4 linked regions of the Homo sapiens genome follow. The protein of the gene in region 1 interacts with the protein of each later gene in a pairwise test. Each region holds a gene or a part of one and is shown on either strand. Other genes may lie near its edges. The genes, in order: MTUS2, MAGEA8, KIFC3 and EHHADH.

The links.
Region 2: the proteins of MTUS2 (region 1) and MAGEA8 interact in binary tests that used the Homo sapiens proteins (3 or more experiments, as listed by UniProt).
Region 3: the proteins of MTUS2 (region 1) and KIFC3 interact in binary tests that used the Homo sapiens proteins (3 or more experiments, as listed by UniProt).
Region 4: the proteins of MTUS2 (region 1) and EHHADH interact in binary tests that used the Homo sapiens proteins (3 or more experiments, as listed by UniProt).

Annotation. Positions count from the first base shown.
Region 1 is NC_000013.11:29,019,322-29,026,352, reverse strand, and holds part of MTUS2 (microtubule-associated tumor suppressor candidate 2), read right to left. Parts: intron 1,897-7,031; 5' UTR 1,685-1,896; coding exon of another isoform or gene 1,655-1,684; coding exon 1-1,654. UniProt on the Homo sapiens protein: Binds microtubules. Together with MAPRE1 may target the microtubule depolymerase KIF2C to the plus-end of microtubules. May regulate the dynamics of microtubules at their growing distal tip.
Region 2 is NC_000023.11:149,876,531-149,884,210, reverse strand, and holds the start of MAGEA8 (melanoma-associated antigen 8), read right to left. Parts: upstream 3,029-7,680; 5' UTR 2,926-3,028; intron 1,844-2,925; exon of another isoform or gene 1,713-1,843; intron 1,141-1,712; exon of another isoform or gene 862-1,140; intron 390-861; exon of another isoform or gene 139-389; 5' UTR 77-138; intron 2-76; 5' UTR 1-1. UniProt on the Homo sapiens protein: Not known, though may play a role in embryonal development and tumor transformation or aspects of tumor progression.
Region 3 is NC_000016.10:57,792,492-57,799,522, forward strand, and holds part of KIFC3 (kinesin-like protein KIFC3), read right to left. Parts: intron 5,792-7,031; coding exon of another isoform or gene 5,753-5,791; coding exon 5,581-5,752; exon of another isoform or gene 5,214-5,580; intron 2,651-5,213; coding exon 2,508-2,650; intron 1-2,507. UniProt on the Homo sapiens protein: Minus-end microtubule-dependent motor protein. Involved in apically targeted transport. Required for zonula adherens maintenance.
Region 4 is NC_000003.12:185,190,124-185,195,080, forward strand, and holds the end of EHHADH (peroxisomal bifunctional enzyme), read right to left. Parts: intron 3,365-4,957; coding exon 2,103-3,364; 3' UTR 501-2,102; downstream 1-500. UniProt on the Homo sapiens protein: Peroxisomal trifunctional enzyme possessing 2-enoyl-CoA hydratase, 3-hydroxyacyl-CoA dehydrogenase, and delta 3, delta 2-enoyl-CoA isomerase activities. Catalyzes two of the four reactions of the long chain fatty acids peroxisomal beta-oxidation pathway.

The sequences.
Region 1 (7,031 bases):
TGGGTGTTGTAGGCTGGTAGGTCATGTTCACAGTTGTCTCTGGGTGGAGGGGTGCTGGAATATTGAGAACTGAATCTGCTCTTGCTGAGGTGCTTTCAATCTTATCTGCATTCTCTAGAAGGTTCCTGTTTTCAGCAACAGATGTGGTGACCTCTTTGCTTTCCCGTGCTTCTGAGCGGCCACTTTGAGGGTCCAGGGGCTCAGGCACCTCCGTCTTGTTCTCTCCAACAGAAGGATTGAACACCAAAACCATAACACTGTCCTTATTCCCACTGCCCAACCGCCTTTCCTCCTCAATGACATCCAAGGGCTTGCTGTCAGTCAGATTATTAGGAATAAAAGCCACATGACTGTCACCTGGTGAAAAGCTGCTGGATGTCCTTTCACCCAACTTCTCACCTGCACATGGTGAAATTTTGCCAGTGGGCTGATTATCAGCCCCTCCTAAGGAAGCAGAGCCCTGTTTGGGGGTGGTGTGGAGAGAATCCTGCTCCCCTGGGTTGACTCCTCTCTTCTCTTCACAGTTGCCTCTTCCCACCCCAAGGTGGTGGAGGTCACTGTTCAGCAGATGGCCAAGTGCATCGGTGGCTTCCGGGTGTGCTTCCCCACATGGATCCCTTCCCTCCAAGGCTGACAGATTCTCTTCCTTGTGGCATCCCAGATACCCTTCCTGGGCTGCCTTTCCCTCCTGTTCAACTCTCCTGGGAGGAACATATTTCAGATCCAGCTTGGCCTCTCCCTTTCCCTGACCTAATTGTGCTTCCAGTTTACTTGGGATTTCCTTCGATGCCAAAGTCAAATTCAGAGCAGGCTCTGGATGGGCGGAATGTGATGTGTGCTCACTGCACACCTGCAGTACATGTGCCCCCACTGTTTGGGTCTCTGAGGGAGTGCTCTGCTTGCTTTCTGAGGTAGATGGTTTAGGATGACGCACACTCTTTCCCTCTGAGGTACTGTCAGTTGCAGGGAAAGCTGCCGGGACAGCGTGGTCTGGCAATGTCTTCTGTGGCCCCTCCCCACCCCCAGGTATCTGACCCCGTGCTTCCCGGGAGTCGAGGGATAGAGGCTGTGGATGCTGCGGAGTCAGGCTCCCGACTGCAGCTACAGAGCTGCTTGCTCTTTCCAAAGAATGCCTCCTCAGTTCCTCATTGTCAAGGGTCTTTGCCAGTTTATCCTTGGGAACATGCCGGGGAATTTCAGCATCCCTTTTAGCCAAAACGTCTAGACTGGCCTCACTCATCACATTCCTCCAACTCGACAGACTTGGTCCCTGAATACTCCGCGTGGTCTGCAGGCTATCTGTGCCTCTCTCCACTGTGTGCTCTTCATTGAGTTCCCTCTGAATGGTTGAAGAAAGTCTAAAATCTTTCAGGCTGGCAGAGCCAGCCTGAGAGCCTTTCCCAAAGCCCTGAAGTTGGTGAAATTCCTTATGGAAATGGGTACGGTTTTCTGGCTCACTTGAATTTGTATTTCCAATTTCATCTCCCAGGTCACATGTCTTGGACTCGTCATGAGAGGAGCTGACCTCCAACATGATTTGATTGGCATTCGTATCTCCCAGACTTAAGATGCTTTCATTATTATTTCTTGCTGCATTTCTGTTGTCCCGCAACTGAGTGTAACATGATTTCTTAGGAGCCACTGGGACGCTCATTGTCAACCCTTTGGTGGGGCTGCTTGCCATGCAGTCCTACTTAATGGAAATGGGCTGCCTTCAAGCTGCAATCAGATTAAGAGGAAATTCTCAAGCTGCTTGTTCTCCCCTGACAATGTCACCTTGCGACACTGCTTTAATCATTCTCAGAACAGCTTGAAAACCAAGCATTGTCTTGATATACAGCAGGAAGACTTATCTGTTAGGTTCCTGCTGAATGAGAGCCAATCAGTCCATGAGACCTAGAGAGAAATAAAAATATATTCACATTAGATTGACAAATAGAACTTCTCAGGAGAAAAAAGTGGTAAACACAGATTTATTTGTCATTTCTATATTATTATTTCATTCAATCAATAGTTTTCTCAAAAAACCTTTCTGATCAGGGCTCCTCCTGGCCAAATACAAAAATTAAACATCAAAATGTTTAATGTTAGAAATGGATTATAAATGCATGTGAGATCTTAAATCTAAATTTTAAACATCCACAAGTCTATACTGATACTGATTTAAAAGGATGGAGGAGAAGTAAGGGCTCTTCTTTACAGAAGAATATCAACGAATGTAGAAAAAAATTATAGAATTTGAAAAATCACTATTTTGCAATCGCTACATTCATAATTATCTTACACAAGGGATGCCAAAGGTACAAACATTGGGTAAAAGATTGTTGGGGAACAAGATATTCATAGATGCTTAAAGTATCTTCCCCCAGGCTACTTCATTTCTTACAAAACGAAAATTTTATCTTTACAATGGAGAGATCTGGTAGACACCACATTAACCACGTGATCAAATTTAACATCACTAGTAATGAAACTGACATTACGGACTCCTGATATTAGTTAGTTCTCAGGGCCACACATCACCTATGCAGTAGTTAATGTTCAACCAGAATTTAACCATGAGACAATAATCTGGCAAATTTAAATTGAGGTATGTATTGCAAAATAACTGGCCTAACTGGTCCCAAAAAATGTCAGCGGAGCCTGGATTTTCAAAACATGTTAGCAAAGGATATTATTAGGACAATTAGAGATTTAAATATGGACTGTATATAAGGTACAGGTATTTTATAATTAATTTTCTTGGGTGTGTAATCGTGCTATAATTATGCCAGAGATTAATTTGGTTCTTGAAATATACATGCTTTAGAATTCAGAGGTAGTATGTCATGATTTTTCTAACTTATTCTCAAATGATTCGACCAAGAAAAACGTGTATGTATGTGTGTGTGCATATGAGAAGGAGAAAGAGTAAAAGAGAGAAACTGGCAAAAGTCAACCATTTGAAAATCTAGGTAATAATTCTATTACATCTGCAACTTTTCTATAGGTTTGAAATTTTCCAAAATAAAAACTTGGGGGAAATGCTTTACTCTGGCCTTCGAGGCCTGCATGATCAGGCCCTGAACACCTTTCTGGCCTCAACCCCACCTCACCCTCTGCTCTGCAGGCTGCAGCCACATTGGCCTCATTCCTCACAGTACCATGTTCATTACTCTCTGCCTCAGGGCCTTTGCGCATACTCTTCCATCTGCATGGAATGTGGAATCCTCCCCCAACCTCATCTTACAAGTCCTTTGCATCCTTCAATATGCAACATAACTACCACTTCCTCCAGGAAGCGTTCCTCACTAGGTCATCCTATAATGATGGATTTGTAGTATCCTGTATTTTCACTTTGAAGAATTAAAAAAAGACTTTCAGATTTGCTAGACACTGAAAATAAATATTGTCTAATACCTGGCATACATATTAGGCACGTATTATGTATTTGCAGCACAAATGAATGAATAAATGTCCAAATGAATGATGAGGAAGATCAGCGTTATTTCTGCCCCCAAAGAGTTTAAAATCTACACAGGATATGCTTTTCTGTTAAAGTAGACTCACAGATCACCACTAAACCATTCTATTCAAGGTTGACATTGTTTCATCCACTATTATGAGTGCATTTTATTAGGCACTGGGGATAGGGGATTTTAACAGCAACAAGGTTCTGCCCCGTCACCAATTCCCCCAATGGAGACTTGAAGCCTTCCACACTTTCCTCCTCATTCATCAAGAATGTGCAAGCACACGTGCACACCACATGTGAGGCTACTGTTATGTTTCTCCTGAAACAGGTTACATGGCAACGTGGCCACCCACTTGTTTTCCCTTTATCCCTGTTAATATGTTGTTTCATATATTAAAAAGAATATGAGGGCTGGACACAGTAGCTCACACCTGTAATCCCAACGCTTTGGGAGCCTGAGGTGGGAGGATCACTTGAGGTCAGCCTTGGCAACACAGCAAAACCCTATCTCTATTTAATAAAATGTATATGTTACAAAGCAAAATAATATAACACGTGACAGCCCATCACCCAACCCAAGGACACCTTGCAGCCATCCTCATGCTCCTCCTCACTGAAGCCCTCTGTGTTTCCAACTTAGAGATCTCTTTTCTTTTGCGTCTATACATAAGCATGTAAACTTTTTTACATACATAAGATCATTTCCTATAAGCTGGTTTTTGTTCCATTTTTTAAAATTTGCCTCTTCTAGCCCATACCCCAAGACACATTAACATCTAGATCTTTCCATTTCTTTCCCCATGTTTGCATGATCATGGGAAAATACAGAGTCATACATGTGCATGTGCGCTTGCATTTCCGTACCACACTGCTCTTCTGTTCTTTCCACGACTCCCTCACTGTCCTCATCCTCCCCGCTCTCATGCTTTTTCTCCTTCTCCATCTTCTACCAGCCTTATCTCCACTAAGCCAGTAGCACCCCCTGGTGCAGCCTGACCCCAATATAGCCCTCAACCAAGTTGCTCATACCCTGATCACAGTCTTCATTTCCTGACACAGAGGGGATTCTCAACAAACCCTTGTGTCTTTGTTTATTCAATTTTAAAAGCGTTTCCCTTGAAGATACACATGTTCTCTAAGCACAAATACAAAAAGCATGTAGGCAAATCAATAAGATCACAGTTTAAAAGAATGCTGTGCTCTCTGGGATGAGAAACGGGTATCTTGCAAAGTCAAGAAGGGCAAGAAAGTTCATAAATATAGGCCATCCACAGAAGGGAACTGCCTCTAATTTTCTGTGGGCAGAAGTATAAATATGCAGCCAAGAGCCCTCTTCGGTTTGAATTGTTGAAGCTGGGAGAAAGAAAGAAACTTTGCTCAGCAGAGACAAACAAAAACAAAGTACCAAAGTCCACAACATGTAACATGATTGCAAGAAAGTGACAAAGAAATATAAAACCAATGTCATGCTAGAAAGAGTTGTATTTTAATTTTTAAGGAACTACATCATAAATGTTCTTTATCTTTGTCAGTAAACAACTGGTACTCACTGGTAAGGGGACAGAAAGAAAGGTGGAACCTCCTAGGGGCCCAGTATTTTCTCAGCCATTATACAAATTTGTTTAAAAAATTGAGACAGTATCTCATTCTGTTGCCGAGGCTGGAGTGCAGTAGCACGTTCATAGCTCACCACAACCATGAGCTCCTGGGCTCAAGAGATCCTCCTGGGTCAGCCTCCCAAGCAGCTGGCACTCCAGGTGCACACCACCACATCTGGCTAATTTTTTAATTTTTTGTAGAGATAGGGTCTCGATACATTGACCAGACTAGTCTCAAACTCCTGGCCTCAAGTGATCCTCCTATCTTGGCCTCCCAAAGTGCCAGTATTACAGGCATGAGTCACAGCACCTGGCCTAAAATTTAATTTTAAATTAAAATTACACAATTACAAGTCTTTAATATTCAATTTTAATTTAAGTTAGGACACTTAATAATATTTATAGCAGGCCTCCAGAGACAGGTCTTCACATCCCCTTGCTTTTTTTTTTTTCCCACGTCCTGGTAAGGAAATGAAAGCACAGAGAAGGTAACATTCCCAAGGTCACACAGCTCATGAGTGGCAGAGCTGGGACACATTTAGAAAGCAGAAGCTGTAAAGAAGAAAAGCTGCCCATGAATGGAATCATACACCACACAGGAAGAACAAAAGGAAAACAAACTATTGTAAGAACAAGAATAGAAAAACAAAACCAGAAACCAACACGTGGAAGTTCACATAAGACAGGAAAAGCAAATTTAAAAACTTTCTTCAATTTTATCAGGCAAAATTATATACAGGAAGTCATGTTTCCTGTCAGCTTCCCTCCTCCTTATGTGGCCTCACGCGTCTCCCTCACTCCAGCTCCCTCATCCTGCCATAAGACAGCGGCAAAGTAAACACAAACACGAATTTCTGTCCGGATCTAAATTTCAATCCAAGGCCTTCTACTAAGATAAACGTTTTCACAGAATATATAACATGATCACAGAAGTTCAAACTTGTACATAATACAAGACTGTGTGTGATTAAATAAAATATGCAAATAGGTCAACCAATGGTACAAACCCCTAGTTGAGGTGCATTTTCCCAGAGTGAGACATGTAACTTTCATATGCCTCAGATCTATTATTACAAAAAGTTAACAATAATGGCCTTAGAAGTAATTGATATTTTATCTTGAAAAAAATCAATTAGTTCAGTACTAGTTTGAAAGGAATGTAAAGATCTAGGCTTATAACCTACCTGATGCTTAAGAGTCTTCTAAGTGGCTTCCCCTGGTTCTAGGGCCAGAAAACTCACCACACATCTGGGCAGGGTCTCTGTTGGCAAGCTCTGCCTCTCTACAGCAGAATGATGCAATTCTTCCACCAGATGACCTTTCAGGTATTTACAAAGAGCTATATGCTCCCTTCCTCCCAAAACCTATTCTACTCCTTGTCAAAGAACTCAGATTCTCCCAACTGTGGGATTAGCTTTTGAAAACTCCCACCATCCAAACAGCTTTCCTCTAAGTACACCGTGTAGCACCAGGGAACCTGAAGTCCCTCCTAAACAAGGTGACCAGAGCTATGCACAATACTTCAATTCTAACTGCACCATCTAGAGTCATAAGAAAGCAAGCCTTCCATTCTCTTCTACTTCTAACCACGCATTCTAAGAATGACCTCCTCATGGACATATAAATCACCCTCTAGTTCCACATCATTAATTAAAACACCAAAGTACCATATAAGTTGTCCTAAACTCCACTGACCCAATCCGAGACATTTGTAACTGGTTTTAGCACCCATGGGTGGGATCATAAAAATATACTTCTCAAACATCACCTTGCTGGTCTCAATGCATCGTTCTATCCTTTTAAAACTTGTGGAGCCCATCCTTAATTTTTCATCGAAAATATCTGCAATCCATTCTTGTTCCCATACTATCGTGGAAAAGCTAAGAGTTCCTTCTACATTATCATTCATTGATAATCCACTGATAAATCACTCACTGGTGTCATTCATCGACACCAATGTTAGCAGAACACAGCAGGGG
Region 2 (7,680 bases), on another chromosome or scaffold:
CCTGGGGAGAGAGGAAGCGTGTGAGAGGCCTCAGCTGGGTACTACACCCTGGATGCCCTAACAAAGGTCTACTTACAGGTCTTCTTCAGTGCTTCTCTGGGGCCTCCTGACCTCCTGGCTGGCCTGTTCTCTGCGAACCTGAAGGAGAAATTGAGAGGGCATCTCAGGGTGCAGCCTCCTGGCAAAGGCCAAGGCTCCAGGACTGACAAAAGGGCTGGTAGGGCCAGGAACTGTGGGGTTCCTGCTGTTCTGATGCCAGAGGGGCCTCTGGTATACATACAGGGGAAACACCACCTCAGCTTGACTGCTACTACTGCCTGGGCCTCTTATGCTCTGTGATTGAAGATACTGCCTCAGACCAAGACCTCACAGCCTGGTTCCTGGAGCTCCTAGAAGATAAATCGAGGGGAACTCAGGCTGCAGACTGCAAGCACAGCCCCAGCACCCCAGTGCTGTCAGGAGGGTGAGCCTGACTCTGTGAGCTCCCCACTATTTTGTGTGGATGGTCCTTTCTGTGCTCATTCAGGGCCCTCATCTTTCTCCTGGCAGGGCCTGGATCTGGCCCTTTTGCTGGCCTGAGAAACTTTCAGATCAAGAGTTTATATCCCTGATATGGAAGACAAGGATATGAAGGGACCCACATCTGGCCCCACATGCCCAAGGCCTCCTGGGAAAAAAGCAATAGCTACACAAAATGCAATGGGGCCCACGTGTCCTGTCCTAGGGTGAGAAAAAAGCAATAGCTACACAAAATACATTGGGGCCCATGTGTCCTGGGCTGACCTGAGGCCACTTCCTTAATCCAAGGACCTATCTCCAGGAGACACTGGAAGAGCAAATGAGGGGATTCCATCCACCCACCTTTCCCTGCACTTCCCATGGCTGACAGAAGGTGCAGGGTGGGGTTCGGTCCTGTGTGTTTGGTGAGTGGTGTCCTCTGAGTCCCTGACTCCTGGCAGGGCCTTGGACCCCCGCTCTGCTGACCTGAATGCAGTGCCCTCAGACCAAGGCCTTCTTCTCCCTGAGACCAATGAGTCTGGTATAACACAGGGGCCTCAGCTGATAGTCCTGCTCATGCTCTCAGGGGTGACAAAAGAGGCCGGGCAGATTTCTGTTGGGCCCCCATCTGTTTTTTGCCTGCTAGGAGAACCATCGAGGGTACCCTCAATCTTCCCTCAGTGTTGTCACCTAGACTCTTGGTAGATTCTTGGACCACTGAGTCTGTTGCCCACATGGGGGTCCCTGTTTTGTCCTGAGTTGCCCTCTGAGAACAAGGTCCTCACTTCCCTGAGATCTCAAGAGAGAAATGAGGAGCCACCACATCTGATGACCACTGGGTGGGGTGTCCAGGGGTGACACTAGGATCTGTCCCTACTTGTTCTTGAGTGGTGGGTTCTAAGGTCTTCAGGGGGTTATTCATCTTTCCCCTGATGGAGCCCGCCCTTCCTCAACCCACAACACCCTGATATGAGCAGACATCTCCCCTTACCACCAAGACCTTATCTTCCTGCGTTTCCCCAACTTCCTGCCCACAGTACAGATGAGATCTCCACTTAGGGCCACCCTTGATCGGGTTCCCCCAGAGATAATAACCAAAGTTAGCCAGACTTTGTGGGGTCCCTTCTTTCCAGGCCAGGAGTACCCCCATTCATCACAAAGTGAGCACATCTTGGGTCCTGCAGATCCTGTGACCCCGTCCCTCTGTTGAACAGGTGTGGCTCCCTCTGCTGAGCTGAGGACGCCCTTCAGACCCAGGTTGCTACCTCCCTGAGACCCAGGAGGCAGAAGTAAGGAGGCACTACATGGACAACCCTGCATGGGATTCCCACGGCTGACAGAAGTAGTAGGTTTCATGGGGTCTTTCTCTGTCTGGGTGTCATCCAGGTATTCATATTTACTCCACGACAAGGCATGGCCCTTTCCTTCCTGCTGAACCGTGGATGTGTCTTGCATGCCAAGGCCACCATCTCCTTGAGGCCCCCTACCAGAAAGTGGGGGGGCCACATCCCTTCCCCACTGTCCTGCCTTGGGTGCCCAGACCTGAGAGTGGGAGCAGGTTTCCTAGGCCATGATGGGAGGTCTGCTGAGTCCTCCTTAAGGGCTCTGGGGCACCTCTCTCCAGTGATCTGAGACTCCACTCCTCAGACCACAGCTGTCTCCTTTCTGACACCCTGAAAATGCAGCAAGGATGCGCCACATGCAGCCACAGATCCTGGGACTTCCCAAGGCTGAGATCTCCACTGATCTGGAGTCCAAGGACCCCTGAGTCCTCCCTCTTCTTCTTCTCCTTGACTCCTGGCAGGGCTGTTCACCACCCCCCTGCTGACTTGAGTTTCAGTCCCTCGGATTCCTGAGGCCAAATGTGGAGGCCCCTCAGTCTCAGACAGGTAGGGTGGGCCCCCTGTCCTGGGGTCCTGGGTCCCCTCGGGCCTCCTCATCTCCCAGCATAGCCTGGGCCCTCCCTCTGCTCCTCTTGAGTCCGTGCTCATGAAGCCCCTTTGCTGCATCAGCCCCGGATGCGGACGTCAGAATCAGCGAGCCCGGCCGCCATGCCCGGCCGCCATGCCCGGCCGCCATGCCCGGCCGCCATGCCCGGCCGCCATGCCCGGCCGCCATGCCTAGGGCTTCCCAGGGCTGACAGTAGGGGCAGAGATGTGCTCTGTGGAGCCTCAGCCCTCCCTCAGGGTCCTGCCCTTGATGCCTGGCAGAACCTGGGCCCTGCCCTCTGCTAACCAGCCCTGCTCTGGTCACACCAAGCTCTCACTCCAGATTCCCCTGGGGCTTAAGCGCAGGGCTGGCGAGGGGTGGCCCAGCCAGACAAGTCTGCCCCCTGGTGGTCCAGGGCTGGCAGCAGGGGCGGCGCTAGATTATTTTGGGTCCTATATGAGGGGTGGGGGCCTCCTCAGTCCTCCCTCAGGGTCTCACCTTGCCTCCTCACAGACCCTGAGCCCGCTTCCCTCAGCCGATCTCAAGCCGACCCCTCAGAACCAGGCCCTCGCTTCTCTCTGATCCCCGCGGCCACGTCAGTGGCGTCACATCCGTCCACCCAGGGCTCACCTGGGTGGACAACAGGGGCGGAACCGGATTCTAGTGGGGCGGGGGATGAGGGAGGAGCGGTTCAGTCATCCCTCAAGGTTCTCACTTTGAGATCTGGCAGAGCCTGGAGCTCCGTACTCTGCTGATGGTGTCTGCTTCCCTCAGACCAAGGTTCTGATTCCGAGTCCCCTGAGGTGGCAGTGGGGGGAAGGGTGTGGTGGGGGGACAAGGCTGCTGGGGTCTTTCAGGGCTGACATGAGGGTCTGAGCTGAATTATGTGGCCCCTCTATGTGGTGTGGGTGGACCCTCAGTCCTCACTCAGGAGGGTCCTCTTCTTGACTCTTGGCTCTTTTAGGAGATACTCTGTTTCTGTCACCTCTGAGCATTTGCACAGCTGCACCCCTTGCAGAGAATGGCTGCGGGTCCCAGGCCAGATTCTCCCTGTGGGTTTGCAGCACCTAAGATTGTAGTGACCTCTGGGAGAAGAGGCACACCTTCCCACGGGGGCTCTTCCCCAGCTAGAAGAGGATTTTGCAAAACTTTTGTACTAAATGATTTATTTTTACACTGAAGAAACTGAGTAGCTGCAATAAATTTGTGGAAGTCCTGAGTTTTGAAGTTACCTAACAATTCCTATTCCACTTTAGTGATTTTCATAATTTAATTCGCATTCGTATAGTAAGAAACGAATTTTAAATCTATGCCAATTGTATATGTGCATTATATTTATGTTTATATGCATAAACACATATGTATGTATATGTTTATATTATATATGTGTAATTATATGAATGTATGTGTATATATCTTTACATATATTTATACATATATGTATGTCGACTATACGTACTTATTTTATCAAACAATATCTACTCATACAATGTGTGATTCACTCATACTATTCTATTTCTAGTTCATTATATATATTTGATTAAAATAATAGTATTTTGGAAGGTAGTCCTAACCTACTCTTTGTTTCTAGTTGTTATTAGCAGAATTCTGGAGCCATGGTGTCTCAATCAATCCAATTTTCCTGGTGTCCTGATATTACCCCTGGGCTACTGGCTTCGTGTTTTGAGGTGCAGACTCGGATCCTACATTGATGTGGGGTGGTCCTTTAAAACTTTTCCTGCAACTCACCCTGTCGTCTGCAGTGGCTGCAGACCTCCTCAACCTCCCTGCCTCTCCAACTGCCCAGAACACAAGTACCAGTTCAACACAGTTTTTTCCCCAGGGTTTTCTATGTTTTGTTGTTTAGACTTTGTTGCTGATATTGTTGTTTTATTTTTCTTTTTCCCTTCTATATTTTTACACAGTTGATTTTGGGAGTAGAGCACAGCAGCCTGGGCTTGATTGTCACTTTGGCAGCTACAGGTAGGCATTAACTGTTTATTTAATTTAAGTAAGATTTACACCTTTGCTGTATTCTATTCCTCATCAGTGAACATCATATACTACTCCATTTATTTGGGAATTTTTTCTCTGAATCTGTCAGCAAACTTGTACAGTTGCTTCTGTAAATGTCTTGCATATTTTGGTTAGGCTTCTTCTTCTTTATATTTTGGATTTAAATGCTGTTGGGGATGGTATATTTTTCATTTTATGTTCTAAGTTGCTCATCTGTGACAAGTCTCTTGTATTCGCTGCAGTGGTCTTTGTATGCTGTCTTCTGAAGTCTCTTATTCATTTGAATGTTCCATGTGTCTCTTCCTTTGAATTTTCTTGATGGTCATATTGTGAAAAATATGATCTATTTCTTTTCAATCTTCATACCTCTTTTTCATCTTGATATCCATAGCTCTCTTTTTCATTTCAGCATTCACTGCAGCTGTGAACGGTAGCAGTGAAAGCATACATCAATGACTTGCTCCTGACGAGAATGGGAATGCTTCTAACATTTCACATTCAAGTATGTTTCCTGTCAGTTTTAGAAAATTAAAGTGCCTTTTAATCTTCATTTGCTAAAAATGTTAATTTGAAAATATGATAAAATTCATTTCAGAGGCTTTTTCTGTATTTTTATTCCTTGCATACGAGCTGCTTGTTCATTAGTCCACTGTTGTGTTGAATATACAATTATCTATTTAGGACATTTGCTGCAATATGAGTGAACACTTGGCTCATATGTTCTTTTTATAAAGGCTGGATGTCTTTATCTTTTTTTCCCCCCCAATGCAGGAGAAGGAGCCTTGGAGAATTCGTTGAATAATTGCCCGTATTTTGGGATTATTTGGAAGAGTTAATATGGTGATTCGTTTTCCCTGACCACTTGGGGGAACTGACCCACAAAACTGCCTGCCTTAGAACGGTAGAGGGTGGATTGAGCTTTAAATACATTTTCAGTTTGTGGACGTACCATTGGTTTTATCCATTCACCAATTGGAAAAAGTATTGATTGTCAATTTCAAATAAGCTGCTATATATGTTTTTGTGTACGTGATTTTGTGTGTATGAACCTGTTTCCAATTTTCCTTGATAAAACCTAGGAGTACAATTGCTGTGTGTAATGGTAAGTCTAAGTTTTGCTATATTAGAAATAGCCAAAGCCCCTTCTAGAGTGAATGTGTTCTTTTTCTTCTCTACCAGCAATGAAAGAGAATGCCACATCTTTTGTACAATTTGGTATTTTCAGGTTGTTGCATTGTATCAATTGTAACAGGTGGGTAGAAGAATGTTACTGCTGTTTACATTTGTATTTTTATTGAATAATTATGGTAATCATCTTTTCATATGCTTTTTTGTGATCTGTGTATCTTCATTGGTGAAGTCTTGAAATCATTTACTATTTTATTGGACTCTTCATTTTTATGTGGTTGCATGTTATAAGGTGTTTATTCATTCAGTATATGAATCCTTTATCCGACACGGGGTTTACAAGTATTTTCTCCCCATTTTTGGCTTTTTTCCCCATTCCTTTAAGTGTTTTTTTTTTTTTAGTAAACATTTTAGAGTAATTTTAAATTTACAGAAAAGTTGCGAAGACAGTTAAGAGGGTTTTCCTATACATCATGTCCAGTTTCTCCTATTATTAACATCATGCAATAATATGATACATTCTTCATAATTCATAAATCAATATTCACCTGCACATTCCTGTCATTGTTTGAGGATCCCATCTAGGATACCATGCTACTTTAGTCTAAGCTGTGATAGTTTCTCAGACTATTCTTGTTTTTGATGACTTTAACAGTTTTGGGGAGTATCGATCAGGCTATTTGTGGAATTACCCTCATTTGGTATTTGTCTGAGTTTTTTCATATATAGACTTGAGTAATGGCTTTGGGGTAGGAGACCAGAGAGGCGAAATGCCATTCTCATTACACGATATTTTAGCAACATGACTCATCGCTGTTGATGTTGACTGATGAACTGGCTGAGGTAGTGTTGTCAGGATTTCCCTCTGCAAGGTTATTACATTCCCCCCTTTCTGTATTGTGCTTTATAAAAGAAAGTCACTAAGGGCAGCCATTGGGTAGTAGGGAAGTATGGTCCACCTTCTTGGGAAGGGGTAGTATTGACATGAATGATTTGGGATTCTTCTCAATGGGAGATTTGTTTATTCTCCCCCATTATTTGTATTTATTTAACCTTCAATTTGTCTCGGCTGAACTCATGGTAATTTATTATATGTTTGGGGTTATAATTCAACACCACTTTTATTTTGCTGCTCAGATTGTTCCATCTTTGTCCATTGGAAGCTCTTTCAGTTGGCTCTGATGTCCCCTTCACGTAACTGAGCCATTACATTTGTTTGTAGCTCTGTCTTACTTTATGGTATGACAAGATGATGCAGGCTCATTTTTATATTTCCTGTTCCAGTCATAGAAGAGTCAATTTTCCATGGTTTCTGCTTCCTTTTATGGGAGAAGAGTATTGGAATGTGAGAGGTGGGTGCTTGGCATGCTCATTGTTCCTGAGGATTTGTTATTCCTAGCCACCTCAATTCTCAGAGTAAAGATATATATTTTGGTATATTAACCTGTGTATATACACATATCTATAATCAGAATTCTTAAACCCAGTCCCTGTGAGAAATAGCTTTAGAAGCCAGACAATACTGCTTCAGTACAGTTTCTTTTAACTTCGGTCCCAGAGACTAACTTCCACAGGTACTTAGGACAGCACCATATCCCCAGATACTCATTAGAGGTTGTTTCATAGATTTGTAACACAGTTATATTGTTTTGTCATATTCTATACTCCACCTTGGCATTCCTCGACCTCCTAATTTTTTCAATTTTGCATACATTGAGGTTTACTCTTTGTGCTTTAAGGTTTTATGCTTTTTGACAAATGCATAATATATTCCATTTTTTGACAGCATGTCATCAACCATGACATGACAAAATCAATCATTACAGTAGCCTAGAGAATAGTTTCACCTGTCTAATAAATTCCTTCTGCTTATCCTAGTCATACCTTTTCCCCACCCCTGATCCCTGGCCACAACAGGTATTTTTACTGTCGTTATAGTCTTGTCTTTCCAGAACGTCAAATAAATTGCATCATATACTATGTAGTCTTTTCGGACTGGCTTCTTTTACTTAGAATTAAGCATTTAAGATTTATTCATGTTTTTGTGTGCCTAGATAAGTAAATATTTTGGTTGATGAATAGTGTTCTGTTGTTGTTGGACCACAGTTT
Region 3 (7,031 bases), on another chromosome or scaffold:
AGCACAGATATTTGTTTAAGGAGCTCACTGCAATCAGAAACAATACAGAGGATCTGTTATAAATAATTTATGGTAAGCCCTGAAGTAGACTATTACGCAGCCGTGTAAAAGAAAGAGGTAGGGCCGGGCGTAATGGCTCACATCTGTAATCCCAGCACTTTGGGAAGCCAAGGCAGAGCCCACAAGTTCGGGACCAGCCTGGGCAACATGATGAAACCTCCGTCTCTACAAAAATTACAAAAATTAGCCAGGTGTGGTGGCACATGCCAGTAGTCCCAGCTACTCAGGAGGCTGAGGTGAGATGACTTGGCTGGAGGTTGCAGTGAGATTCTACCACTGCATTCCAGCCTGGGCAACAGAGCCAGACCTTGCTCAAAAAAAAAAAAAAAAAAAAAAAAAAAGGGTAGTTCTCTATGTGTTGATGAGCATGAAGAGATTACCAGGACTTACTTGAGGGAAAGAGCTAGTGACAGAATAACATGTAAAATAAATAATAAAAATCATATAAATATGCACTGGGAACTGTGGCTCATGCCTGTAATCCCAGCACTTTGGGAGGTTGAGGCGGGTAGATCACTTGAGGTAAGGAGTTCAAGACCAGCCTGGCCAACATGGTGAAACCCCATCTCTACTAAAAATACAAAAATTAGCCAGGTGTGGTGGCACATGCCTGTAGTCCAGCTATTCGGGAGGCTGAGGCATGAGAATCGCTTGAACCTGGGAGGTGAAGGTTGCAGTGGGCTGCAATCATGCCACTGCACTCCAACCTGGGCAACAGAGTGAGACTCTGTCTCAAAAAAAAAAAAATCATATAAATATGGCTGGGTGCACTGGCTCACACCTGTAATCCCAGCACTTTGGGAGGCTGGGGCGGGCAGATCACTCGAGGTTAGGAGTTCAAGACCAGCCTGGCCAACATGATGAAACCCTGTCTCTACTAAAAATACAAACATTAGCTGGGCACGGTGGCACACGCCTGTAATCCCAGCTACTTGGGAGGCTGAGACAGGAGAATCACTGGAATCCGGGAGGCGGAGGCTGCAGTGAGCTGAGATCATGCCATTGCACTCCAGCCTGGGCGACAGAGCGAGACTCTGTCTCAAAAAAAAAAAACAAAAAAAGAGTTCAAGACCAGCCTGGCCAACATGGTGAAATGGTGAAACCTTATCTCTACTAAAAATATAAAAATTAGCCAGGTGTGATGATGCACACCTGTAATCCCAGCTACTCAGGAGGCTGAGGTAGGAGAATCACTTGAACCCGGGAGGCGGATATTACAGCCAAGATCACGCCACTGCACTCCAGCCTGGGCAACAGAGTGAACGAGACTCCATCTCAAAAATAAAAATCATATAAATTTAATTAAGTGGTTCTATATAGGAAAGATAAACAAATAAACACCAAATACTTAATAGTGGATTTCTCAAAGATAGAGGACTAAGAGAGGCAGTTTCTGGATAACTGTATCTCTGCCCTGTTACAAGGCTAGTTGTGTTGAATGGTCGAATATGTGACCAGCAGCGAGTAACTTAACCTCTCTGAGCCTCCACATCCTCATCTATAAAGCTCAGATCAAATACTGTATCCTGAGATTGTTATGAGTATGATGAGGACTAACATGAGATCTTTTAATGCCTGGCACAGAGTCCATGTTTGATAAACAGTAGCTCTTATTACTATTATCGTTATGTATTATTTCTATAGCCAAATATACATACATATGTAAAGTTTATCTTTTTTCTTTTCTTTTTTTTTTTTTGAGACAGGGTCTCACTCTGTCACGCAGGCTGGAGTGCAGTGGTGCAATCACTGCAGCCTCAACCTCCTGGGCTCAAGCGATCCTCCCACCCCAGCCTCCTGAGTAGCTGGGACTATAGGAACCACCATGCCCAGCTAATTTTTTATTTTTCTTTTTGTAGAGATAGGGTCTCACTATATTGTCCAGGCTGGTCGTGAACTCCTGGGCTCAAGCGATCCTCCTATCTCAGCCTCCCAAAGTGGTGAGATTACAGGCCTGAGCCACCGCGCCTAGCCTTACTTTGTCATTTTAAAGTCACTTGGTGATAACTGCAAGGGAGAAGACCCCAAGTTTTAGTGAATCCTCCATCTAGCTTTGAATTCTCACTTCAAACAAGGAAATATTCCCAAGGAAATACAAGGAAATACTCACATAACCATGTTTCAGAATAATCAACCACCCCAAACCTGCCTGTTTTCCCAATACCTTCTCCAAGCTCTGCCCATCTCAGCTAAGGCCCCATGCTTCCCATTTTAACACCTCAGCCAGGGCATGGCTGAAAAGCTCCTGTCAGCTCCTATGAGATTTCCCGTCTGACTTAATAAAGCAGGCTCCCAGGCAGAGGGGTCATGAGGGGCCCAACAGAGAGGTGCGAGGTGGGTCCCCGGCTCTCCCCAGGTGCTTCCTACCCCCAGAAGCCTGGCAGGAACCCAGCCACTGGAGCTCAGAGAGCCAAGGCACATGCAGCCTGGAAGGCCCCAGTGCTTACCTGCAGGGTCAGGTAGAGCCCGTGGGGGCTTCCGGGGCCAGCCCAGTCCACGCTAAGGGCTCGGCACTGAGCTAGGGCTGGGCGAGCTGCACTTCGGGCACTGGAGTCCTCGTCACCGCAGACTGGGGTATCTTTTCCACGCCCTGTCCCAGGACAGAGAGATAGGTGAGACACTCCGACCACTGGCCAAAGACTGCTAGCCATGGACCACTGGCCAGGGCCGCAGCTGAGCTCAGCTTTCACACATCCCTGGCTGGTCCAGATGTGGCCAGGAGGGGCTCACACACCCAAAAAACGCCTGCCCTGCAGAGGGGAAGGCCTGGCTCGGGGCAGTGGCTACGCTCCTTCCTTACCAAAAGCCGCCCAAAGATTCTCTTCTGGAAGGGGCCCAATACCCCACCGGAGGCTCCCCTATCCCCACAGTGGCTTTTGGGGCAGGCATCTGCTCAGCAGGGAAGTGGAAGGAAGCCATTGCCAGCCAGCCTGCATGAAGCTTTGAGGACTTGCACAGGGGCTATGGCTTTATTACCCCGGCTGCCTCTAGGTGGCAATTTCTTCCCTGACTTCATTAAGACAAAATCCAAACCAGGTGGCCCAGCCTCCGTTGCCTCCCCAAGCGTATTCAGAACCAGCTAACGTGCATCCCCTTGTGCCTCTGACACACCGCCTCCCTCACCCATGGGAGAGAGGGCGGGCTGTGGCAGCAATGCCCCAGCCACCCACCTCCACCTGCAGGGCTGAACAGGGTGGGATGGGGGCCAGCCTCACGAGTCATGAGGCACACTGCAGAGCCACTACCCTGGGGCGTAACAATATCCCGAGTGCCAGCCACTGGGCCAAGTGCTTTTCAGGCCTTACACACATTCTGTTTTTTTGGGCTTTTTTGTTTTTTTTTTTTTTTTTTTTTTTTTTTGAGACAGGGCCTCTCTCTGTTGCCCAGGCTGGAGTGCAGTGGTGCGATCTTGGCTCACTGCAACCTCCACCTCCCGGGTTCAAGCAATTCTTATACCTCAGCCTCCCGAGTAGCTGGGATTACAGGTGCGCACCACCAGCCCAACTAATTTTTGTATTTTTAGCAGACACAGAGTTTCACCATGTTGGCCAGGCTGGTCTTGAACTCCTAACCTCAAGTGATCTGCCCGCCTTGGCCTCCCAAAGTGCTAGGATTACAGGCGTGAGCCACAGCACCCAGCCTTTACACACCTTCTTGGTCCTCAGTTTGCTTGTCAATAAAATGGGGACAACTTCACAGCCCTGTGATAAGGATCAAATGGGATGAAATACACGTGGTGCCCATGTAGTGCCAGGCACACAGAAAGGGCCCACAGTACAGGCCAATAGGACTACAGTAGCCATCAGCTCCTCAAAACTCCCCAGGGAGGTGGGGGGCATTCTCCCCACCTGACAGGCAAAGAACCGGAAGCCTGGAAGGGTTAACAATGTGCCCAGGGTCACAGGGAGCCAGGATTCAAATCCCATGTGCTAATCAACCCTCTGCCAGCCAATTCTCAGGGTGGCAATATGGGGGTTGGTCGGGGGACTCAGAGGGGCCTGGGGCAGCTGAGCTGGCTGAGGCCCAGTGGCAGGCACGGCGCTTGCATTTCACACACAGGATTTCATCTGACCTTTGTCTTAAATTTTTTAAGTGGATAAAAGTCTGTATGGTCATATAATCTTCATAATACCCAATTTTTTCCTTCAGGTTAGAAAGCTGAGATAACACAATATTTCAAAGACCTATATGCATGCACACACACACACAGACACACACGACTAGAAGGCACTACATAAAATGTTCAGTGACTAACTTGTGATTTTTATTTCCTTTTTGATATTTTTCTATGTGTTTTAAGTTTTCTAAGGGAAAATGCTTTTGTTTTACCGGAAAAGCAATACTCATTCATATTACATTTGTAATACTTAGGACAACCTTATGGGGTAGAGGCCATCCTCTGCCCCTTTCAGACAACTGGGCTACCTGGCCCAAAAGCCCAGGCTTTTCCCCAGGCCCCTGGGTCATCCCCAGCCTGGCTGTGCTGCTTGGGAGCAGCCAGCCCCAGACAACCATAGAAGCAGAGAGACCTCGGAAGGCATCAGTCCAGCTGCCACTGACAGCACAAATGTGGTGGGAGAGAGGGGTGAACAGGAGTTTGCTGTGTGCCCTCTCTGGGCCTCAGTTTCCCCTTCTGTGCACCAAGGGGCTTGGACCTGATGGCCCAGAGGGACTCTGCTAGCTCTCACAGGCTGGCAGTCTAGACCCTGTTCCTGTAGGTCACGAGGGACAGGGAGCAGACCCCTGAAGGCACCTTGCCTGGAGAGCCCTCTCTCCCCCACACTACCAGGGCGACCTGCCCACGCCTCGGGAGAGGGTCATGGACAGCTCCGCGGCCCCGCCAATCCAGTCCCGGCCCTGAATCAGAGAAGCCGCTCACTTCTTGACTTTCGCAGCACCGGGGGACATGACCCAGAAAGGCGAGCTGGCACTGACAGCTCCCCGGGGGGTACAGTGGGGGCCAAGACTCTGGGACCTCTGCCCACCTGCTGTCAGGGTCTCTACAGAAGCACCTGAAATGAGCACATGGACCCCAAGCCCCGCCAGGCCACGTTCCCGAGCAGCCTCGGTCCACTCCCAACGCCGTCCAGGGGCCAGCCCAGGCAGGATCAAGTGTCAGCGGCGCTTGGTGCCCAGGCAGCCACTTCACCTACCTTGTTTACCAGCCTGGGCAGAGACCGGAGCTAGCCCACACGCTCTTGGCCAAGGACGGCAGCCCGCAGAGCTCTGACCAGCTTGGCCAGAGGGAATGCAGCTGATTCCCCCTGCTCTGTGCCCGACCCGTGTTAAAGTTTAACCCGGCTTCCAGGTCTCCTCTTTTCCAGACAGGGGCGCAGGGAAGGAGCGCCCGGCGAGACTGACGCTCCGGCTCCACGCCCGCCTGGCTCTGGGCTGTCGGTTACCCTGTAATTACCTGACAGCTCTGACTGGGCTTAGGAACCGGTGAGAAACCTCAGTCTCATCTCTGGTATCTGGAGGAAGGAAGGGAAATAAAGAGGCATTTTAAAAATGCGGACTCACCAGTTCTCAACCTCCCCGGGCCGGTGTGTGGGAAAGGGCGGGCGGCCGGGCTGGCTGGGGCTGGGGCGGGGCGAGCCATCCCCGGCTCGGGCTCCGGGGCCCGGCCCACTCTCCACAGGCCCCGCAGCGAGGGCGTGGCTCCCAGGTTCCACGTCCTGCGAGAGGGGACCATGGCCTGGGGCTCAGCAGCCTCCTCGGGGCACCAGGCAGCCTGCGGAGAGAACAAGGGGAGATAAGCTTGAAGACCGTGGACCAGCACAACTGCACCTCGGGCAGAGCCAGCCATCTGGAAGGGTCTACGCCCCACCGGTCGCTGGTTACCCAGCGCAGCAGCTCCAACTGCACTGTCCCCCAAAGACCCTAGGGCTCGCAGGATGAAATGGGGCCTGCTGCCTTTTGGGGGTATTTGTTTCCGAATACGGAGGCTCCGAAGTGCGAAAGTTGCATATCAGCTGTGCCTGAGACCCCACACCTGAGCCCTTCCCAGCTGAGCCTGGAGCCTGAGGACAAGCCAGGTCCTAGCCCCACACAGAGGAGGCACCGCGAGTCAGCAGCATCTCCGTAAGTCTAATCCTTTTCCTCCAAGACATCTAATTTTCTAATTGCACTTAACCACATGCTTAACCCTTAGGCTTCAGGCTGCTCTGCCTAAGGCCTGTCAGCAGAGCAGTGAATGCTCTGAATATTAACATTTCACTGAGGAGGGACTCAAAAGGGCCCTGACTGTGGCCAATGACAAGTGAAGTCTATATACAGTAAGTTCTCATTCATGTATTCGACTAGCCTGCGCTCTGTGCCTAGCATGTGGCAGGCACCGTATGGGTGTTGAGATACAAAGATTCATTCAGTCTTCATTTAATAATGCCTACTGGGTGCCAGGCATCTGCCAGGGGTCCTTTTGGATCAGAAGAGATGAGGCCTGAAAACTCCCAGTCAGAAGGGAGATAAACACTTCAAAAAAACCCTCACAGTCTGAGCAGGCTACTGGAGGCGGCAGGTGCGAGCCAGGCACCAGGTGGTGTGGGGAATGGAGGGGGGCAGAGAGCATTGGTCAGGGATAGAAAGCTTCAGTCAGGGATAGGTCCCTCATGAACTGAACAAATGAACAGAGCTCAGGTATTCCCTGCAGAAGTCTTTATTGAGCACCTACTGTGTGCAAAGCAACCTTGAGGACATTTAAGGTGATCATGCTACAGTCCCAGACTCAGACAGTAATGTCATTTACAGAAGAAGCGAAGTCAGCTTGGAGAGGCAACATGGGGTTTTAAGATTGAGGTGGGGGTAACTGAAGGACTTCCTAGTGGAGCTTCCTGGGCTGTCGACTACTCTCCCCATCCGTCACTGCAGTGGCCACTTCCTGCCAGGAAGTGAAGATAGCTATTTGAAGGGTGTCCACCTCCCCTGACCCACTATGGGCCCACACACATTCATGTTTGCAGCCCCACTGCACC
Region 4 (4,957 bases), on another chromosome or scaffold:
TGACTCATAAAACCTATTCATAGACCCTCTAGTTTCAAAATCTCAATCTAGGCCAAGCGTGGTGGCTCACGCCTGTAATCCCAGCACTTTGGGAGGCCGAGGCAGGTGGATCATGACGTCAGGAGATTGAGATCATCCTGGCTAACATGGTGAAACCCTGTCTCTACTGAAACATACAAAAAATTAGGCAGGCGTGGTGGCGGGCACCTGTAGTCCCAGCTACTCAGGAGGCTGAGGCAGGAGAATGGTGTGAACCTGGGAGGCAGAGCTTTCAGCGTGCTGAGATAGCGCCACTGCACTCCAGCCTGGGCGACAGAGCAAGACTCCAGTCAGAAAAAAACAAAAACAAAAACAAAAAAACAAAAAAAACCCCCTTAATCTAGAGGCCACTGTAGGGTGAAAATAAGTTGTAAGAACTCAAAATTAATTCCAGGTTTGAAGAAAAAGTTAGTGGGTTTTTTTTAACACTGATTTGAAAGCAAGTCACTTTGGAGACAAAATTACTACTTTCAGGAATCATTTTTATTGATGTCTTTAATTTCACAAACCAAATTATATAAAATTAAGTAGTACACATTTCAAACATAATAATTGTGCTCTGTACAATTCAAGGCACACTTGGATTTTTTGTTGGTTTTTTGTTTGCTTTTTAACAACGGAAAACTTATACTCCATTCAAGATTTTTCCATCAGAACTTTAATCATTTTATTTGGGTTCACAGGTGAAAATATTGTGAAAGTTCATTTACACCACAATGAAGGATAACATCTTCAGCCCCATTTATTTACTAACAACTTTATTGAGATATAATTCACATACCATATAATTCACCCACTTAAAATATACAACTCAATGGTTTTTAATATATTGTTATGTGACCATTACCACAATAAGTTTAGACCATTTTCATGAACCATAAAGAAATCCTGTACCCATTAGATGAATCCTGTACTCCCCATTCATCACCCCCAATTCTAGCCTTAGGCAACCACTAATGTACGGAAAGTATTTTTTGTAGAGACAGGGTTTTGCTATGTTGCCCAGGCTGGTCTCAAATTTCTGGCCTCAAACAATCCTCCTGCCTCAGCCTCCCAAAGTGCTGGGATTACAGGTGTGAGCCACTGTGCCTGGCCCTTTATTTCTTTTTATGGCTGAATAATATAGTCCATTGTATGGATATACCAGATTTGGTTTATCTATTCATTAGTTCATAGACATTTGGGTTGTATTCAGCTTTTGGCCATTATGAATAATTCTGCTATAAATATTTGTGTACAAGTTTTTGTATTGACCAGCCCCTTAATTTTTAACTACACAAGGCAAAAAGTAAAAAGAGAAGAACTCTTACAACAAAATCATACAAAATATGTTTTGCAACAATTTTAGATTTTTCAAGATTCAACCATTTCCATATGTAACATCACAGAGGCTTGTCATGACAGGAAAACTGGTGTCATTACTCTATCACAGAATTGGGAAATCCTAGAAGGTTAGATGTTCTCTAAGACCCTTCTTACACTAAGTTAACGACTTACTACTTTCTATTATTTCTCCATAAACAGAAGAGGAAAGACCAGAAGAGGAAAGGCTTGCCACACTAACCTAAGTTCCCTGTGCTGGTTTGAAGTACTCAGTTCCCTTACCAATTTCCAACTGTCTTTTTCCTACAACTTTAATGTTTGTTGAGTGTATGTATGATTCATAAGATTTCTGATCAATACTATGTGTGTGACATTGAAAGGAGTCAAAATGAATGTATGACTTAGCTGCATTTATCATTTATTAATTGATGACACATTTATCCAATGATAAAAGCATTTGAGAATCTCAACTTATGCCTGAGCCTCTTTCATTAGCTATTATGGTATTATATTCACACAAGTTCATGCATTGAATTTATCTGATAAGGACAGATTCAGAGGCATAGGAAGCACATTCCTAAAGATTTGACCATTAGAGTCGTTACACAGAAGATTCTAATGATTATTTATTTTGCTTTGTATTTCAGAACAATCTTACTTTGGATTTTTGATTTAATTTCACTGAAATTCAGTCAGCATTACCTGATGCTAGCATGTGAGGCATAATCTGGAAGACTGAATCACAATTTACTGCTAGGGGAGCCTGCCAAGCTTTGCCATTCTTTCAGGGGAGGGTTTCCCTGAGAAGCCAGTTTTTTTAGATAGTCACTTGGCTCCAGTTGGGGAATATCAGGGTTCTGCCTGTAATATTTCTGCAATTTCTCTAGAACTGTGGGCAACCCAACTGTGGAAGCATAGAACATGGGCCCGCCCTTGTGCCTTGGCCATCCATATCCATGTAAATAGACAACATCAATGTGCTCTGGGCTAGCAGCTATCCCTTCTCCCAAGATACGGAATGCTTCATTGATAAGTGAATATAAGCAGCGTTCAAGGATCTCATCCTGGCTAATGGTACGTGGTTCAATGTGATGGGTTTTTCTATACCGTGATAGGAATTTGGAAAGCCAGGGATCAGGTTTGTGAATCCTACCCAATGGCTTGTCATATTGATACCAACCCTTACCTGTCTTCTGGCCAAATCGTCCTAATTCACAGAGCACATCAGGAATTGGGCAGTACCTCCTATTACCCCTTTTTCGGGCAGGAGTTCCTGGAAGCAATGTAGGTCCAGTAAGACCTTGCCCCTTTCTAGATTTCCAGCCCACATCCAACCCAGCAAGATCAGACACTCTAAAAGGTCCCATTTTAAAACCAAACTCTTCCAGCACCTGATCTACCTCCTCTGGTTTGCTGCCTTCTTCTAACAAGAAATATGCCTGATTGTAGTAAGGATTCAACATTCGATTCCCCACAAATCCAAAACAGTTGCCTACAACGACTCCAATCTTTTTAATCTTTTTTGATAAGTTCATAACAGTGGCAATGGTAGTGGGGGAAGAGTATTGGCTGGGAATAACCTCTAACAACTTCATGACATGAGCTGGCGAAAAGAAGTGGGTGCCAATGACCAAGTGAGGACGATCAGTGGAAGAAGCAATCTCATCAACATCCAGGGCTGAAGTATTAGTGCACAAAAATGCTTCTGGTTTGCACACAGCTGAGAGTTCAGCAAAGACCTGCTTCTTCAGGCTCATTTCCTCAAATACTGCTTCAATGACTAAATCTACACCACCAAGCTCCTTCACAGATGAAGTTAACCTGGGTTTTGGTCCTGACCAAGGGTGGCCGCTCTGTTGCATTTTGGAGGCTTCTTTTTCCAAGACAGAGGTTATCATCTTGTTTGCAGTTGCTAGCTGGTTTTTGTCCGAGTCTACAGCAATCACAGGAATCCTGGCCCTTGCAAAAGAAATGACAATGCCTCGGCCCATTGTTCCCAAGCCTGCAGATAAAAATCAAAGGAGAAAAAGAATGATTCAGTGGTATTGGGAACTGATAAATTATTCACTGGATGGAAGGCTTATGTGACAATGTGGCATTTAAAGAGATTGAGTCAAGAAACACAAATGGATTGAGTACTAGTTAAGACTCTGCACTCTCTTAAGTGTTTCAGAGGATATAAAAATTAGTCAGATTCACACACACAAATAGAAGCTATACAAACTAATAAATGAGTCCAACGAGATTGTAGGTACACAATTGATATACAAAAATCAAGTATATTTCTATATATTAGAAATAAACAATCTGAATATAAAATTAAAAGAAACAATTCTACTTACAATAGCATCAAAAAGAATAATACACAGGAAGAAATTTAACAAAGAATAGGAGGATTTGTACACTAAAAAGTACAAAACATTGTTAATAGAAATTAAGTAAGACCAAATAAATGGAAAAACATTAAATGTTTTTGTATCAGACAACTTAATATTGTTAAGGTGGTAATACTACCCAAATTGATGTGAAGAACCAACACAATTCCTATAAAAATCCCAGCTGGTTTTTTGCAGAATCAATAAGCTGATCCTAAAATTCACATAGAAATGCAAGAAATCCAGAAGAGCCAAAACAATACTGAAAAAGAACAAAGTTGGAGGATTCACTCTTCCCAATTTCAAATTGTATGACAAAACTATTCAAGGTTGGGTGAGGTGGCTCGTGCCTGTAATCCCAGCACTTTGGGAGGCCAAGGTGAGAGGATCACTTGGAACCAGGAGTTTGAGACCAGCCCAGGCAACACAGTGAGACTCCAACTCTATAAAAAATTAAAAATTAGCCAGGGGGCCAGGTGCAATGGCTCACACTTGTAATCCCAGCACTCTGGGAGGCCGAGGTGGGCAGATCACCTGAGGTCAGGATTTCAAGACCAGCCTGACCAACATGGAGAAAACCCGTCTCTACTAAAAATACAAAATCAGCTGGGTGTGGTGGTGCATGCCTGTAATCCCCACTACTTGGGAGGCTGAGGCAGGAGAATCACTTGAACCCAGGTGGCAGAGGTTGCAGTGAGCCAAGATCGCACCATTGCACTCCAGCCTGGGCAACAAGATTGAAACTCTGTAACAACAACAACAACAACAACAACAACAACAACAACAAAAATTAGCCAGGCATGATGGTGCATGCCTATAGTCACAGCTATTTGGGAAGCTGAAGCAGGAGGATATCTTGAGCCCAGGAGTTTGAGGATTGCAGTGAGCTATGATCACACTACTGCACTCCAGCCTATGTGACAGAGTGAGACCCTGTCTCAAAAAAAAAAAAAAAAAAAAAAAAAAAAGAAGCCTATAGTATTTAAGACAGTGTAAGATAGTGGTCATTGCAAAAGGATAGACATATAGATTAGCAGAATAGAACTGATAGCCAAAAGCAAACCCACACAATTATGGCCAATTGATTTTTAACAAGAGTGCCAAGAACATTCAACAGAGAAAGTATAGTCTTTTCAACAAATGATGCTGGGACAACTGGATATCCACATGCAAAAGAATGAAGTTGGACCCTTACCTCACACCATATACAAAACTAACTC